3 linked regions of the Homo sapiens genome follow. The main gene of each other region encodes a partner of the protein of the gene in region 2 in a complex. Each region holds a gene or a part of one and is shown on either strand. Other genes may lie near its edges. The genes, in order: EIF2S1, EIF2S3 and EIF2B5. A codon is read from its position in the direction of its gene.

Region 1 (2,814 bases), on a different chromosome or scaffold from region 2:
AGCATCTTGACTTTTCCCCAGCATCACAAACAGCCATTTCCTCGGGCACCAAAGTAGGTTCCCTTTGTTGGAACAATTACACTGGCCATGCCATAATGTTGAATAAAACTCTCTTCTTATGAGGTTCTCTCTTAACTTCTTTGGAATTAGTAAAAGCTGACAATTTGTTTCTAGCTATTAGAATCCCATACAAAGTTTATAGTTTTCGAGCAACGTTTCAAGTATCTCTGTCATTAAGACATAGTTCATCTTAAAGTGGGGATGGTGGCCAAACTTTGTACATTGAGAATATTGTTTTGCTTTAGAAAACAAGCCTGCATAAATATTATACATTACAGAAGTCATGGACTCTGTCGGAGAACATAATCACGTATACGAAAAATACATTACATAGCTTTTCTATGAAAAATGGGCATTTAGCAATGCAGAGTAAGAGCGCTCTAAAGGACAGAAAAAGATGTAAATGGGGAAGATTTATATCAAGGCATTAAATTTTGGTTTTAAAATGAATATAAGCTGAGACAAATAGGTACCAAGAAACTTCACCAGTTGGAAGGTTAATCTGTAGTGAAAAGTCTGTATCATACAATACTTTTAAAGAACATTTTTATTACTTTCAAGTTTATACAGTAATCTGGCACAAGCTATTGCCAGCATTCCTGCCAAGTACAAATGCTTGGACCTCCCCTTAATCAACAGATAAAATACATAACTTACATTTAAGGGGAGTGGATACCTCAAAGTGCTTAAGTAAAAATTTGTTCTCTTTAATAGTTTGAACTGTCCCTTGTTAGTCGTGTCTAAAACATTGACCTGAATAATGAGAAATCACAAGCTAATGTTTTACTTATTCCTTATATGGTAAGAGACTACCTTTTAAAGCACCATTTTCCATTTGGCATTTCACCAAGGTCTAATGTCCCTGGAATTAGTTTTTTTGTTTTGCCTTTTGAATATCGATAGGTGTTCATCTGAATTAAACTACGTTTAGTTTGATGGCTTCCTGCCTCCAAATTGGCAACAGTGTACCTCACTTTGTATGGGAGCTATCAGGATCTCCATAGGTTGCAAAGTAGATGACCATTACCTTGGGGTTGGGGCAAATCAGTGAACAAGTCTCGGCAAGGTACTGGCATTTGTATTTTTAAAAAAATCTCTAGCCATTTTGTTCTTGGTGTAAAAGTAGAATGGCTGAAGTATGGCAGCTGAGTAATAACTGTTCTTCTTAGCATGATGTAGTGCTTAGCATGTCTCTATGGGTCCAACTTTGAACATTATTAAGAACTGGTTTGTCTTGTTTTGCTATAACTGATATGAAAAATGGTTTGGGTGGGGCATGGTGGCTCACACTCTTACAGAGGCAGAGGCAGGAGGATAGCTTGAGCCCAGGATTTCGAGACCTGCCCAGGCAATATAACACCATTTGCCAAAAAAAAAAAAAAAAAAAGAAAAAAGTGGTTTGAATATTCATATTTCTTCCTGGCCATTACTGATTTTCAATTAATTTATGCATAAATGAGACCCAAACTATCACTAATTTTCAGCTATATGAATTGATAGCCACTTGACATCAGTGAAAGGTACAGTAGGGAGTAGATGAAATTGTATTTTTAATGAAAAGGCTTTGATGGGAGATTCAAGATTTTTGGTTTTTTTTTTTTTTTTTGAGACAGGGTCTTGCCCTGTCACCCAGGCTCGAGTGCACTGGAGTGATCACAGCTCACTGGCCTCAAGTGATCCTCCTGCCTTGGCCCCTTAAGTGCCAGGGTTACAGGCATGAGCTACCATGCCTGGCAGAAATTCAAGATTTGGATAAACTTACTTCTTTGCCAAGCCTGTTCTTCAAGTTATTCAGAACTGGGTGTATACCTTGTCCTCATATGTATCTTGTCCCTGCTGTCTTTTAGGTTAGCAAGGTGTATGAATACTTTTAAGTTTTGTTTGTTCTTTTCCTCGTGGTATCAGTGAAATACTGATCTATTCTCTGGCTAGGGTCAATTTACAAAATTGCCATGGAACTGAGCAAAAGGCCCACGTGGGATAAAAATCACTCACCATCGACGCCACCAGTATTTTTCAAGTTATGGCTTTTGAAGTATAACAAATTTCAGTAAACAAAATCAAAAGAAAAAATTCCTCTGCGTACAACAAAGAAGCACCTGTTATATTTTGAATGCATTCTTCATGTTGCCAGCTTTCTAAACTTGTTTTTTTGATGCCTCAACAGACAGAAGTGAAAATTATATGCCACTCTTAAGTACATCCAGGTTCTCCTCTACATATTCCCAATATGGAATGCTGGCTAGCAATCATGGCACTCTCTCAGAAACCAGCCACTGGAAGTTAAAACTTCTGGATTTCAAAAGCTAGTACAGGCTGCTAAATTTAACAAAGGAACAAACCTTCATAAATGGTACAAACTACCTGCCCAACACACTCTTCTATTTTCCAGACCCTTTAATATTGAGTAGTCTAGTCTTGGATTGACTATGGTGGGTTAGGTCTAATCTAAGTATCTTAATAGCTATCTAGGGATAATGAATAAAATTAAATACAACTGGTACCTCAAGTATCATAAGAGAATAAATTTATGAAGACAAGCAGACCAAAGCAACTCAAGATTTTCTACACCTGACTACTGTAGCTGTAACTTCAAATAATGTGTTACCTATGAAACTTATTATGTACGAATTAGTTCTTAAAGACAGAAATGATGGAAACATGTAAAAAAAAAAAAACAACAGTAAGTGTTCAAACAGATCCCTGTTTTGTTATAAAGAACTGGAGCTCTAGGTGGCATCTAGTGGATATTTT
Region 2 (7,125 bases):
CTATCTGTATATGCCCATTACACTCAGTACAGTGCTTTACAAATTTGCTAATTCATGTGGATGTCTGAAATTAATTATAATAGAATTCTGGTTTCAAATCTTACATGAGATTAATTACAATGTCTATATTTTAAGTCTTATTCCAAAATTTCTGGTAGAAGGTACCTACAAAACACATGGGGACATGTTAGATATAAAATTAGTTTGATTTAGAATTGTTTTATTTGTGTTCCTCATGCTACAACACAACCTTCAAAGTCAGCGAAGTTTATAACATTAATATGCTTCCTCAAAACATCAATTTAGGCAACCCATAGCCAGAGCTTCTAAACTTCTACAATGCAACTTCAACATTCACAAGAGCACAATATGCTTCAAATCCCATCTCAATGCAAATTTAAGAAAAGCAAAGCAAATTGTATTATCAGTCTACCAAAACTCAGTAAGATTCTGTAATTTAATATACCTACTTCTCAACTCTCTAAATTTGTTTCTCAACACTGGGGAGTTTTTAAAGATATCAATGCCTGAATTCTACTCCAAGCCAATTAAATCAGAACAATTAAAATCAGAATCTCTGTGGGGCATCTTTTTTTTTTTTAAAGCTTCCCCAGCAACGTCAGCAAGAGTTGCAAATCACTGCTCAACAGAACCTCTTACGAAGCAAAAACATAAAGAAAAATAAGCCGGGCAGAGTGGCTCACGCCTGTAATCCCAGCACTTTGGAAGGCAGAGGCGGGCGGATCACCTGAGGTTAGGAGTTCAAGACCAGCCTGGGCAACATGGTGAAACCCCATCTCTACTAAAAATACAAAAATTAGCCGGGTATGGTGGCAAGTGCCTGTAATATCAGCTACATGGGAGGCTGAAGCACGAGAATCACTTGAATCAGGGAGGCAGAGGTTGCAGCGAGCCAAGATCGTGCCACTGTACTCTAGCCTAGGTGACGGAGTGAGCCTCCGTCTCAAAAAAAAAAAGGAAAAGCACACGAAGTATAGGGACATGGGGAATAAGTTAAAAATCAAAAGGACTCACTCATTGCTTTCTAACATCTTTTACTTCTTGACCTTTTGAAACATCCAAAAATTAGTAGTAGTATAATCTATGTCACAATCATAATATAACAGTTAAGAAAAAACATAAAATGAAGGCCTAAAAAGATCTTTGTTACTCATCTAGAATTATTTGGTATAACAGTATTTTCCCATGGAGGAAGACTTGGATTTCAGGCATTAAACAACGCAGAAAAAAATCTCAAGGCATCACAGGGAGAGGGAGATAACTTTTGACTCTGGTTTCCCGTGTTTCAGGCCAGGAAGAGCAAGGGGAGAAAAATATTTGTCCATGGGAACAAGTAATCATGCTCTAAAGGACAATTTCATTCGAATCCATTCATTTCCTTTTCATGCAAAATTTCAAAGATAAAGCAACATAAAATATGGGGCCACATAAAAGGGAGAAGGTCTTCAAGGAGAATTTGTGCCTTTAAGTTTTTACTGGTACAACAGTCTTTCAGCCTGGAGGTACTCAAAGACGAATCATGAAAAAGAAAAAAAACTTTATTTCAAACAGGTTCAGTGATATATGTGTGTGCTACAGCAAAGGCTGGTTGTGGCAAAGTTTCATTTCAAACTGTATGATGTGGGCTGGGCAAGGTGGCTCACGCCTGTAATCCCAGCACTTTGTGAGGCCGAGGTGGGCTGATCACCCTGAGGTCAGGAGAGACCGGCCTAGCCAACATGCTGAAACCCCGTCTCTACTAATAATACAAAAATTAGCCAAGTGTGGTGGCGCGCACCTGTAATCTCAGCTACTCGGGAGGCTGAGGCAGGAGAATCGCTTGAACCCGGGGGGCAGAGGTTGCAGATCACGCCACTGCACTCCAGCCTGGGTGACAGAGCCAGACTCAAAAACAAAACAAAATAAAACAAACAAAAAAACAGAACTGCATGATGTATAATTTTGACATTATGTGGGAATGTTTAACTTCTGCCAAAATGTAGATTCAATCCAACATTATGCCAATTTTTATATTAATTTTAGTCCCTAAGTTTTCATAACCAAAAAAAAAAAAAAAAAAAAAGAGAATAACCTTACCGTTACCTACTAAGGTAACGAACTGTGAAATCAATTCCCCAATATTGCTTTGAAAATAAACCCCTTGGTTGTTAAGAGGAATTCCAACTTCCAAATCCATCCGAATGTATTATTTAACTGGTATTCTTCAGTCATCATCTACTGTTGGCTTGATTGTCACTCCTCTTCTTATCTGACCCCAACCAATTAAACTGCAAAATGAAAATAAAAGAAATCATAAATCTTACATCCACTTCACTCTCATTACCACACAATCTTGTGATAAATTTTACCTGCTTATCTTCTGAATTCAAATTTGTTCCCAAAGCCTGCTCCTCCATAAAGAAAGCCCACACTATATTCTTAGATTCTTTTTTATTCTTGCTTTTGTGTGTTTTTTCTGAGACAGTCTCACTCTGTCACCCAGTCTGGAGTGCGGTGGTACGATCTCGGCTCACTGCAACCTCTGGCTCCTGGGTTCAAACAATTCTCATGCCTCAGCCTCCCGAGTAGCTGGGACTACAGGCATGCGCCACCATGCCCGGCTGATTTTTTGGTATTTTTAGTAGAGATGGGGTTTCACTATGTCGGCCAGGCTGGTTGCGAACTCCTGGCCTCAAGTGATCCGCCCACCTCGGCCTCACAAAGTGCTGGGCTTACAGGCATGAGCCACCGTGCCTGGACTGAAAGTTTATTGCTTAAATCTATTTCAAAATACACTGGAAGTCGTGTGTCTGTAATAGCAAAAAAATATAATCACAAAAGACAGTAAAATCAAAAGGGCATAAGTCACCACAAATAATTATTTACTTAAGAGACAACAAAAATTTAACTTTCTAAATTACAGGGCAATAATTCAGATAAATCTCCTGGACAAGTGATGAGACCATCGTGGGCACAGTAGCATGGAAGCCTTAATAAAGGAAACAGGGCTGGGCGGGGTGGCTCATGTCTGTAATCCCAACACTTTGAGAGGCTGAGGTGGGAGGATGGCTTGAGGCCAGGAGTTTGAGATCATGCTGGGCAACACAGTGAGACCAAGTGTCTACAAAAAACAAAAAAATTAGCTGATCACGGTGGTGTGAGCCAATAGTCCTAGCTACTTAGACACTGAGGCTGCAGTGAGCTATGATCATGCCACTAAACTCCAGCCTGGTCAACAGAGAGACCCTGCCTCTAAAAAATATAAAATAAATAATTAAGGAAGTAGATAGTGGGTAGGGGTGATGTGAATAATTATGGGGACAGTTAGGGCACAAAACAGTCTAATTTAGAGGGTTTATATAAGACAATGCAGAAGGAAAGCTTAAATGGGTTGAAGCAGGTTTCTAGAAAAGTCCCAAATATCAAAAAGTAGTGAGAAGACTCTAGAAATTATTAAACACAGCATGATGAAAATGTTTTAAGAAGACTAATTTTGACCAAGTTAAGAGGCAAACTAGGAGTCTTTCGCACTAACTGTGAAGTGTAAAGTGATGGTGGTATGGACTGTGATGAGGTGACGAGGAATGGAAAGCAAGGGGCAAACTCAATAACCTGGGAAAGAGCAAAAAGTCAGGAGCCAAAAATGTGTGTATGCTTCCTGGCTCTATGCTCTCAAAAGACCTAGAAGCAACAGCACCCTAAGAGCCATGAGCACACCTGAACACTCAGCTTTTCATTTATAAGAGAAATGGCCAGTTCTAAAACTGGAACAGAGAAGGTACAAGATGAGTCTGGAAGATTTTGTGCCAGAAAATAAGGAAATGTTCCAAAAAAAAGAAGAAAGAGGTCAGGCGTGGTGGCTCATGCCTGTAATCCCAGCACTTTGGGAGGCCAAGGAGGGCGGATCACCTGAGGTCGGGGGTTAAAGACCAGGCTGGCCAACGTGGTGAAACCCCGTCTCTACTGAAAATACAAAAATTAGCCGGGTGTGGTGGCGTGTGCCTGTAGTCCCAGCTACTCGGGAGGCTGAGGCAGGAGAATTGCTTGAACCTGGGAGGCAGAGGTTGCAGTGAGCTGAGATCATGCCACTGCATTCTACCCCGGCGACAAAGCAAGACTCCATCTCAAAAAAAAAAAAAAAAAAAAAGAAGAAGAAAAAAAAATGATGAGTACATGTCAAAAGGACACAAGAGCCAGCCTGAAGGACCTCCACTGGCCAAACGTCGAACAATGCACATCAAAATAAAGGAAGACAGTGATGGATCATAACATGTTGAATAAAATAGGACTCCATGAGTCCATATTATAACTAGATAGGGAAATAAATAATGGCAAAGAAAGAATGCCAAATGATAAATGTGGGGTGGTAGAGTTGAGGGAGGATACTGCAACCCGTAGAGGTGCTATGATTTTGTAATCATTATAGTCAAGTTCGATTCAGGCAAGAATCATCAGTGGATGCTACATCCAGGGGTGTGGGATTCAATGATCAGCAGGCTATTTGTACTGGCTAGAAAGATCTCCCTACAGATTGCTTATTAGTTGCAAGGGTAGAGAGTAACTACACAGCAGAGAAGCTGGACAACATCTTGACTACATAGTCAAAACTAACCTTAACAAAGAGGAGCAGTCAGATATCATGTGCCTCTAGCTGTGATTCCTGAAAAGGAGACTTCACGGTGTATTTAAGTTAAGAATATATAACTGAATCTAATGTTAGGCTTCCGAATGATAAGAAAAACCCAAATTGAGGAATATTCTATAAAGTAACTAGTTTGTATTCTTCAGAACTGTTAATGTCAATTAAGACAAAGGCTGAAAAAGCTCCAGATTAAAGATCAAAGAGACATGAAATTAAATGCAATTCAAGATTCTAAACAGGAGGAACATAAAGTACATTATTGGGACAAGTAATAAAACTGAAACATGCACTGTAGATTTCAGTATTTTGCCAATGTTAAATTTCTAAGTGGTTACATAAGAATATCCTTTTTTGATGGGAAATATACACTGAAGTATTAAGAGATCAAGAAGCATAACATATATAGCCTACACTCAAATGGTTCAGAAAAAAACTTATATATGTAAATAAATCTGTATGTGTGTTTGTCAATCTAGGAAAAAGCTATAGAGGAGTTTTCTGTAAAACTCTTACAATTTTTCTATTAAGTGTGAAATGATTTCCAAAGCCAATGACGATAGAAATACCGAACCCAAATTCATTTGGTTTTGCATAGGTTGTGTCTAACAGGAAGAGAAGCCAATCACAGTATTTGGACTAAAATATGGGACTATAGTCAAGGTTGTAGTTTTTTCTGAGACGGAGTCTCGCTCTGTCGCCCAGGCTGGAGTGCAGTGGCGCCATCTCGGCTCACTGCAAGCTCCGACTCCCAGGTTCACGCCATTCTCCTGCCTCAGCCTCCCGAGTAGCTGGGACTACAGGCGCCCGCCACCACGCCCGGCTAATTTTTTGTATTTTTTAGTAGAGACGGGGTTTCACCATGTTAGCCAGGATGGTCTTGATCTCCTGACCTCATGATCCACCCGCCTAGGCCTCCCAAAGTGCTGGGATTACAGGCGTGAGCCACCGCACCCGGCCGAAGTATAGTTTTCAAAGTCATCCAAATAAATAGTTGAGACTGAAAGCCACAGTAACTGTTGTCCTCAAGGAAGATTGTGTGCTTTTTTTTCTGTACAAGACTGTGTCTTTTTTTAATTAGACAGTGGCAAAGACTAACAAACTTACCGCCAGTGTTTTTCAACTCTTCGGCTAAGGGCAATTTTTTCTCCTACCTCTGTGCACACTGGATTGGTCAAAACAATTTTACCCAAATCGGCCTTGACAGCACTAACTCTCCCTCCTGTTGACAGGGATCCTATGTTCACCATGAGCACTTCATTCTTAGACAGCTTTTGAACCTAGAAAAATAAATTAGGGAAAAATAAACCCCAAAATCAAGAAAATGCTTTCCAAATGTAAGTAAGAATTTACCAAATACTATTGGGAAATATGTCAATCATAAAAAAAATTCTATAGAAATTTCATTGTAAAGGAATTTGAACTATATATAGTATAGTTTATTTGGCACCCACTGAATTTACACAAGATCTACCTTTAAAAAATAGGGTAGTAACCGTACCAGAGTACCTCTTAAAATTCTGAAGCAGTTACCTAGTACAAATGAGGTACAAAATTTCCCAAAGAGGGGAGCATGAAGGACTATGGCTATATAAGAGTTAATATGGGCCAGGCGCAGTGGCACACGCCTGTAATCCCAGCACATTGGGAGGCCGAGGAAGGCAGATCACCTGAGTGGGGGGAAAAAAAAGCATGATAGCTTATTTTCCTCAATCTTTGCCAACACTAGGTGTCAGCAATTTCCCATCTCTGCCAACCTAATCTGGGACATTTTTTAAAAATCATGAAGCTGGGCGCAGTGGATCACACCTGTTAATCCCAGCATTTTCGGAGGCTGGGGTGGGCAGATTGCTCAAGCCCAGGAGTTGGAGATCAGCCTGGGTAATGCGGCAAAACTCCGTCTCTACAAAAAATACAAAATTAGCCAGGCGTGGTGACCCACACCTGTAGTCCCAGCAACTCAGGAGGTTAAGGTGGGAGGATGGCTTGAGCTGGGAGATCGAGGCTGCTGTGAGTCGAGATCGCACCACTGCACTCCAGCCTGGGCAACAGAGCAAGACTCTGTCTCAAAATAAACAACAAAACAAAAATATGGATTTTAGGAATATCATGTCTTTGTCATAAATGGCTAATACTTTTCCCTGTTTATTAAGTTTCTTTCTTAAACTAACTGCCATATAGTTCTCAATTTTGGCCGGACGCAGTGGCTCATGCCTGTAATCTCAGCACTTTGGGAGGCCAAGGCGGGCGGATCACTTGAGGTCAGGAGGTCAAGTCCAGCCTGGCTAACATATAGTGAAACCCCATCTCTACTAAAATATACAAAAATTAGCTGGGCGTGCTGGTGCGTGCCTGTAGTCCCATATACTTGGGAAACCGAGGCAAGAGAATTGCTTGAACCCAGGAGGTGGAGGTTGCCGTGAGCCGAGATCGCGCCACTGCACTCCAGCCTGGGCAACAGAGCGAGAGACTCCATCTCTAAATTA
Region 3 (7,409 bases), on a different chromosome or scaffold from region 2:
AACAGAGCGAGACTCTGTCTCAAAAAATAAAAGTAAAAATAATGAAAATAAACAGGGAGAAGAAATATACCCTGGCCTTCTAAGGGGACAATAACAGACCCACAGAGTTCTACTCTTTGGGTGTGCAGCCCCAGCCCTAAAGAGCTCACCTGAGGAGAACAGATGCTGATATGACAATCCAGTAAATCATATCGAACCTCCACTCCATCACTACTGCCCTGAAACAGGCTCTGTGGGGAGAAGTTACAAGGACTTTAATTTGTTTCTCCCACTGAAGCCTGTCACTTCCCCATCTCAAAGGACCCCAGATATCCACACACCAGAGGAAATGCAAAACGCCGGAGACCCTGGGTCTTCTGAAAATGGAGAACCCTGTTTGTGGTACTATCCACAGCCACTACCACATTGTCTTCGTGGCAACGAGTTGGGTGGCTGGGGGATGACTCCTTGAAGATCATCGTCATCACAGAAACATTTTTTTCTAGCTTCCGTCTCAACCTATAAAGGACAGGAGGGACAGAACTGCAAAAAAGCAGTCTCAGGGCTCTGCTGGTCTTTAACCCTTGTTCCTGTCATTTTCCCATCCTGACCTGTGTTCCTCAAGGGCTCTGGTGATATTGATGTTTGAGATGACATCCCCATACACCAGAAGAAAGTCAGAGCGCACCAAAGCCTTGGCATCAACATCACGGAGGACATCTCCCAGTGATCGATAGAGCTCTGATGTAATTATTCGAACCACATTGAGAGATGTAGGGCGGCACCACTTTGACTTCCTAAAGGAAGGGAGGGTGAGGGGAATGAGTGTATCAAGCATAAAGATCATTTGAGCCTTCCCCATTTTTCACCCCCTTTCAGCACTCACAGTCCTTCTCGATGGCTTTTTTGGGTTCTTGCCAGCGTCTTCAACTTCAAAGAGTATTATGAACTATAATGAATGCTTTCAGCATCCTGTGTCACCAGTCTTGTTTTATGGGTTAGGAAACATGGTTATTTCCTCTCCATACCTTGACCCCTTGTCCCTAAACATCAATTTGAACTCAAAATCCTGCTGAAGCCTAGGGTACACAAAGTAGCCTGGGAACACGCTTCACGTCAGCTTTCCCCTTCTGCAATCCATATAACATTTAGGAACTGTCTGATGGAGACCATGCTAATGTCCTAGTCTTTACATCCTGGACTTCCATAAGCAATGCGATTCCCTAGTTTTCAAGATTTCAACAAACATGTAAGTGCTCACTATATGCTTGGGACTGAGCTAGGCAGTGGGAATACAAAGATGACAAGGAGCTCATTTATATCCTTGAAGGTGAGAACAAACAAGATTTAGAAACTCAGTGGGAAAACAAAGATGTTATCATTGTAACTTCCATACTGAAGCCATTAAATAAAAGCAAAGTCCACTGGCACCAAACTTTATAATGAGATTCAGAAAAAACCCAAGTTTATTCTTTAATCTTTGTCACAGAAAACCCAAGACAGACAGATACAAAGTTTCAGCTGCTCACCTCCTGATAAGTGTAGAAAATACCCTTAGAACTTACAATGACATCTAAGTAGACACATTTTTCCCCTCTCACATTTCCCCTTAGTTACATTCATCCTGAAAAAACTGGAAAAAGATGGCGAAACATGGAAAGAAAAGTTGCAGGGCCTTACAGTAAATGTTCTTTGATTTGAGCAGCTTTCCAGCAACAAAAGACAAATGTTTCCTGTACACCTGTGGCAGTCAGGAATTCCAGAGTGTAGTCAATTAATGCCACATTGGCCAGGGGCAAGAGGACCTGAAGGATACAAGATGAAAAAAAACTTGAGGTCTCGAATCCCTTTGGGTACCCCACTGCAACAATTTTCACTCCTCTATTCGTATTTCCAAACAGTGTAATTTTGCTGTATCTTTCCAATTCAAAGATAAACAGGTTCCTGCCTTTGATGTTCATGCCATGCTCTAAGCCTGAGTCTGAGACATTGCAATTTGGGGATGGTAAGTACAGAATCTATGTGCCTTGTATCAGACACAGAGCTGTGACAGAATGGCAGTTCACTGCTGGCAAAGGATAATACTGGAAATCAATCATATTTCCATAAATTTAAGCATTGCTAAGGCCTTCTTCCCCATAAGATTTCCTTCCTTGATCCCTTTCTAAGTGTCAGAGGTTAGCCATCTCCCGTCACTTGTCAAAAATGAACAGCCATTAGGCTTTTTCGAGGGAATTAGAGAGGATTTTCCTTAAATCCAATGCAGTTCCCTCTTTCTGAACTGACTGCTGAACGACCCAGCTGAGTCCAATACCCCATTGTCTAGACAACTCGGGGGCTGATGGCAATCAACCACTAAACCCATTTTGTCCTTTCGACAGATAGCACCGGCTATCATTAGAACCTGGAAGGAAAAAAAAAATACACTGCCTGAGATCTAGCCCGCTCTTTTTAAGGCATATTACCGCCCTTTCAGAGGCAAAAGGTCGTTTCTTTTCACCTAAGCAACCGTCATCGGCAAGGTTAAAAGCGGCGCAGCCTCTTCTAGGGGCACTGAATCCCCGCGTGAAGGCTTCTCTCAAGCGCTGTTTCTACATTTAGCTCTCTTCATTCCTTTCAAACCCGAGGTGGACAGCATTACGAATGCCCAAATCTGCCGGCCACTAACTTGGTCAGCAGTCATCAGGGTTTAGACAGTCCCTCTGCATCCGGTTTTAGGATAACAGCATAGACGCAGGTCCTTCAAGGGCATGCTGTTGTAGTTAGCCGAAATGAGAACTTGCTCCAGCCCTGCCACCCTTCCTGCCCTCTGGCTGCTCGCGTGCGCGGCGCTCACCCGAGGCTGGTCCTTGGAGATGGGGAAGAAGCGGCGATCGAAGCTATCGGCCACCAGAACTGCTTGTAGGGGCGGCGGCGGTTCCTCCTCCGCCCCTCTGGCTCCCCCGCCACCGCTGCCTCCCGGCCCCGCGCCGCTGCGCTTGTTAGCCCGACTAACCACCACACCAGGCGGCGCCACTACAGGGGCCGCCATCTTCTTCTCTCACGGTCACCACTTCCGCAAGGAAGCTGCCACCGCACGCAGTAGGGGACAAAAAGGATCCAGCACTTGAAATGCGATGGACTAATTAACGAAGGGAAGGAGACGAGGAGGGAGCAGTGCGCATGCGTCTTCCCCGGGAGCCCACAGGGGTCTGAGGTTGATCCCGGAGGCGCGAGGAGTCGGTACGGGTCACGGTTGTCCCGGCCCCTGAGGCGCAGGGTAGGAGTGGGGTCCCATAGATGTCAGACTCGGTCTGCAAGTATCGTCGGCCTTCATTTGTAGGTGAACAAGCCGAGATTCTTGTGGCGTGATAGGACTTGTGGTCGCCACGAAGGGGCCAGCTCCATCGGGAATCTGTAATCGCCCAGCAGTTTCCCCGCCCCGCGCATGTGAAATATGTAGCCCTCCGTATTCATTCTAGAAACTTCTGGGAACCCAGCGCCTTGGGGAGATAGAACCGAGCCAGATGTTCCCCCGCTGCGAGGAACTCAGAACCTGCATAAATAGAGAAGGTGGCAGGCATATAGTAGGGAGACCAGTAATTCCATTGAGCGCTGATTTTGGGCCAGGCACGATACAAGCATTATCTCTGCAAAACATCTTATTCATTCGTTCAGCAAACGTTTCTTGAACTCTCAGAAGGATGAAGGAAGTTTACCCAGCTAGTAAGTGGAAGAACTGGTATTGGAACCCGATCTGTCTGACTGCAGAGTTCCACAATCTTGCTGCCAAGTTATGTGGGGATAACAATGACTATTTTATGTCATCTATTCATTCTTCCAGCCTATCAGCCTCCTGTGTCTTAAGCAGAGTGGAGACGGGGGTGGATCCAGGCGCACCAGTAAGTTGTACTGGAGTTAAGCAGTAAGCTTTCTGGGCAGAGGAAAGTGCGGGCGTAAAGGTCCAAGGCTTGAAAAGGCGCAGCAGCACCTTTTTCTCTTTGGGGAAAGAAGCGGTGGCTGCGGGGAATAAACCAACTCTGTAGAGGGGCGGGGCCGTGGGAAAGCGGTGGAACGGGGCAGGAAGGCTGGGCGTCATTTGGGAGGCAAGGAACTTTTCTGTAAGGCATAGCGCCCTTTCTGCACGGGACCTGTCCAGGTTCCACGCCACAGGCTTCTGCAGTTCCTGCAAACTGTTCCCATCCCGCCCCGCGTTGCACGTCGGGATTTGGAGTTCGCGATGCTGAGAGCTGTTTCCACGTGGCGATTCCGACTTGACCCGTCGTGCTCCGGCGCCCGCCTAGGGGGACCGAGGAGTTTGTCATTTCTTGCCTCGTTAGGGTGCGGAACGAAAACCATTTGATTTATCCTAGAAAAGGAAAGGCTGAAGCCAACTAAGTAAAAGTTTTCCATTAAATGAATGCACGTTGTAGAAAAGGAATGTTCAACTGCCCTACAAATCCAGAGGTAGAAATGGGGGAGGGGAGAAGGAATTAAATAGGACACACACACACACACACAAACACACACACACACACACTCTTGGGGGGGTGTTTGGGTATGGAAAGTAGGTCCGATTGCAGAATTTATTTTAAATGATTCCCGCAACCTTGGGAAGTTGGGAAGTGGTGAATCCGCTGCCGAAAGGCATTTGTGCTTATGGTAAATCCAGGTCTTAAAATTCTGTAGACTGGTAGCTATATGGATATGATTTTAATAGACGAGTTTCAGGAAGACTCTCTCAAACTGTTTTTTGTTGTTGTTGTTTAAAAACTTACTTGAAATATATTGGAAACCACATATACATAATCTCTCACACACACTACATAAAGAAGTAAAAATTCCTTTCCCTACTTCTTTCATCCTATCCAATTTGTAGAGTCATAACCATTCTTAATAATTTGATGGGTATTCATTTCTTCCCTAAATTTATATGTCTAGAACTAGAGCTAGAGTGTATGCCTACATACACACACACACACACCCATACATATATATTCAAACATAATATATGTATATCCACATGTATTCAAACACAGAATTATGTTTAGATAATTATGGTTATATGCTGGTATGCCAGAGCCAGACTGCCTGGCTTCGGTTCCAGGCCCTAGTTGGATAGCTTTGGGCTACTCAGCCTCTTTATGCCTGGACTTCTTCATCTTTGAAATGGGATAATAATAATACTTATCCCATAAAGTTATTGTGAGAATTAAATGAAATAATATATGAAAAGCCCTTAGAACAGGCATTGACACATTGTGAAGGTAATGTATTAGCTATTTTGATGATTATGCATTTTGTCTGCAACTTGATTTTTATTTAACATATGTGGGAAAGTAGACAAACATAGCCATTTTCAATGATTCCATAATATTCCATAGCACGAGTATACCATTGTTTATCGAACCATTTCTCTCTTGAGAAACATTGCAGATTTTTTTTGCAGTTTCTACGATTACAAATAATGCTGCAATAAACATCTTTCTACATATAGTCTTTATAAATTTGCGTTTATTTCTTAGAATTTATTATTGAATTAGAGTAACTGGTTCAAATTGGATGCAATTCCCATGGCAGAAGGTACATTGTTGAACTCACTGGCAAGCCTGATGAGGCACTGGTGGAATTCATGGAGATACTGCTTAATTGCTCTCCCTGGACAATGTGTCATTTTGCACTTACACCAGCAATGTATGAGAGCGCCTGTTTCCCCATAGCCTCACCAACAGAGTATTTTGTCAATAGTTTGGAGTTTCTGCCAATCTGTAAAGGAAAATAAGTGTAGTTTTAATTTGCATTTCTCTATTTCAGTGAGGTTGAACATTTTTTCATATATTTGGTCAACTGCCAGTTCTGGTTCTTTTTCTTTTTTTTTTTCTTTTTGAGACAGAGTCTCACTCTGTCTCCCAGGCTGGAGTGTAGTGGCACGATCTTGGCTCACTGCAACCTCTGCCTCCGAGGTTCAAGTGATTTTCCTACCTAGGCCCCCCTGAATAGCTGGGATTACAGGCTCACACCACTACACCTGGCTGATTTTTGTATTTTTAATAAAGGTGGGGTTTTGCCATATTGGCCAGGCTGGTCTCAAACTCCTGACTTCAGGTGATCCACCTGCCTTGGCCTCTCAAAGTGCTGGGATTACAGGTGTGAGCCACCGCACCCAGCCTCTTTTTCTTTTCTTTTCTTTCTTTCTTTTTGTTTAGAAACAGGGTTGTGCTCTGTTGCCCAGGCTGGAGTACAGTAGCACAATCATAGCTCACTGCAGCCTCAAACTCTTGGGCTCAAGCAGTCCTTCCTCAGCCTCCAGAGTAGCTGGGACAACAGGCACCTGCCACCACACCTAAGTTTTGTAGTTTTTGTAGAAATGGGGTCTTTCTGTGTTGCTCAGGCTAGTTCTGGTTCTTTCTCTGAATTTAGATTTCAAAATGAGTCTTGAATATGAAATCAGTTTAGAATATAATCTCTGTGGGCCTTCTGTTTATTTTATTCACTACTATACCCCAGGTACCTAGAAGAGTAACTGGCACATGGCAGATGCTCACTAAATATTTGTTGAACGAATGACTGGTTGTTGCTAGTCAGTAACTGAGTATGTGATCAACTGTAGACAAACAAAAGTAATTCCTGACTCTCCCAAGGCTGAGGCTGTTTTTAAAAGATTATGGTAAAAATACAACAAAACATAAAAGTTATCATCTTAACAATTTTTTAACCTTGGCATGGAAAATTGATCGAAGTTGGCCATTTTTAAGTATACAACTCTGTAGTGTTACTTATGTTCACGTTGTTGTGCTACCATCACCAACATCCACCCACAGAACTCTTCATTTTGTAAAACTGATACTCTGTACCCATTAAACACAATCCTCATTTCCCACTCAGTCCAGCTCCTGGCAACTACCATGCCACTTTCTGTCTCTGTGAATTTGACTGCCCTAGGTCCCTCATATAAGAGGAATCACATAGTATTTTTTTTGTATCTGCCTTATTTCACTTAGCATAATGTCCTCAAGGTTCATCCATATTGTTGCATGTTTCAGAATTTCCTTCCGTTTAAAGGCTGAATGATAATCCATTGGCTGTAGATACCACATTTTATTTATCCATTTATCTGTCAATGGACACTTCTTCGGTTGTTTCCCCCTTTTGCTATTGTGGATAATGCCACTACGAACGTGATCGTACAAATATCTGTTCCAGTCCCTGTTTTCACTGAAATAAATGGAACTACTGTATCATATGGTAACTCTACATTTAATTTTTTGAGAAATTGCCATACTTTTTTTCATTTTTCTTTTCTTTTCTTTTTTTTTTTTTTTTTTTGGTTTTGAGATGGAGTCTTACTCTGTCACCCAGGCTGGAGTGCAGTGACACGATCTCGGCTCACTACAACCTCTGCCTCCCGGGTTCAAGCAATTCTCCTGCCTCAGCTTCCCTAGAAGCTAGGA

The links.
Region 1: the proteins of EIF2S3 (region 2) and EIF2S1 are in contact, whole or in part, in a cryo-EM structure (PDB 6K71), measured with the Homo sapiens proteins. Residues at the interface, in NP_001406.1 of Homo sapiens: Asn265, Lys266, Pro267, Gly268, Cys269, Glu270, Val271, Asp272, Asp273, Leu274, Lys275, Pro313, Ile314, Phe315, Lys317, Lys342, Ile343, Asp344, Pro345, Thr346, Leu347; in NP_004085.1 of Homo sapiens: Tyr200, Gly201, Tyr202, Ile205, Val208, Lys209, Leu212, Gly215, Leu216, Ser219, Ile227, Asn228, Leu229, Ile230, Tyr235.
Region 3: the proteins of EIF2S3 (region 2) and EIF2B5 are in contact, whole or in part, in a cryo-EM structure (PDB 6K71), measured with the Homo sapiens proteins. Residues at the interface, in NP_001406.1 of Homo sapiens: Glu72, Leu73, Glu74, Arg75, Thr78, Pro166, Gln167, Pro168, Thr170, Ser171, Glu172, Ala175, Glu178, Ala209, Phe210, Gln212, Thr214, Lys303, Asp304, Arg352, Phe376, Leu378, Arg379, Arg380, Leu382, Gly383, Arg385, Glu387, Val403 (codon at 5,895), Met405 (codon at 5,889); in NP_003898.2 of Homo sapiens: Glu126 (codon at 721), Tyr128 (codon at 715), Asp137 (codon at 688), Ala140 (codon at 679), Lys141 (codon at 676), Gln255 (codon at 152), Gln258, Leu259, Asp262, Asn263, Phe264, Asp265, Asn279, Asn285, Asp549, Phe553, Glu556, Thr560, Arg563, Glu567, Asn573, Leu576, Glu577, Asn579, Ser580, Leu581, Lys582, Tyr583, Ala584, Tyr585.

What each region holds. Positions count from the first base shown.
Region 1 is NC_000014.9:67,384,292-67,387,105, reverse strand, and holds the end of EIF2S1 (eukaryotic translation initiation factor 2 subunit 1), read right to left. Parts: 3' UTR 590-2,814; downstream 1-589. UniProt on the Homo sapiens protein: Member of the eIF2 complex that functions in the early steps of protein synthesis by forming a ternary complex with GTP and initiator tRNA. This complex binds to a 40S ribosomal subunit, followed by mRNA binding to form a 43S pre-initiation complex (43S PIC).
Region 2 is NC_000023.11:24,071,885-24,079,009, reverse strand, and holds the end of EIF2S3 (eukaryotic translation initiation factor 2 subunit 3), read right to left. Parts: intron 5,920-7,125; coding exon 5,747-5,919; intron 2,289-5,746; coding exon 2,225-2,288; 3' UTR 200-2,224; downstream 1-199. UniProt on the Homo sapiens protein: Member of the eIF2 complex that functions in the early steps of protein synthesis by forming a ternary complex with GTP and initiator tRNA.
Region 3 is NC_000003.12:184,130,987-184,138,395, reverse strand, and holds the start of EIF2B5 (translation initiation factor eIF2B subunit epsilon), read right to left. Parts: upstream 3,039-7,409; 5' UTR 3,011-3,038; coding exon 2,816-3,010; intron 1,785-2,815; coding exon 1,660-1,784; intron 777-1,659; coding exon 591-776; intron 499-590; coding exon 321-498; intron 231-320; coding exon 150-230; intron 1-149. UniProt on the Homo sapiens protein: Acts as a component of the translation initiation factor 2B (eIF2B) complex, which catalyzes the exchange of GDP for GTP on eukaryotic initiation factor 2 (eIF2) gamma subunit.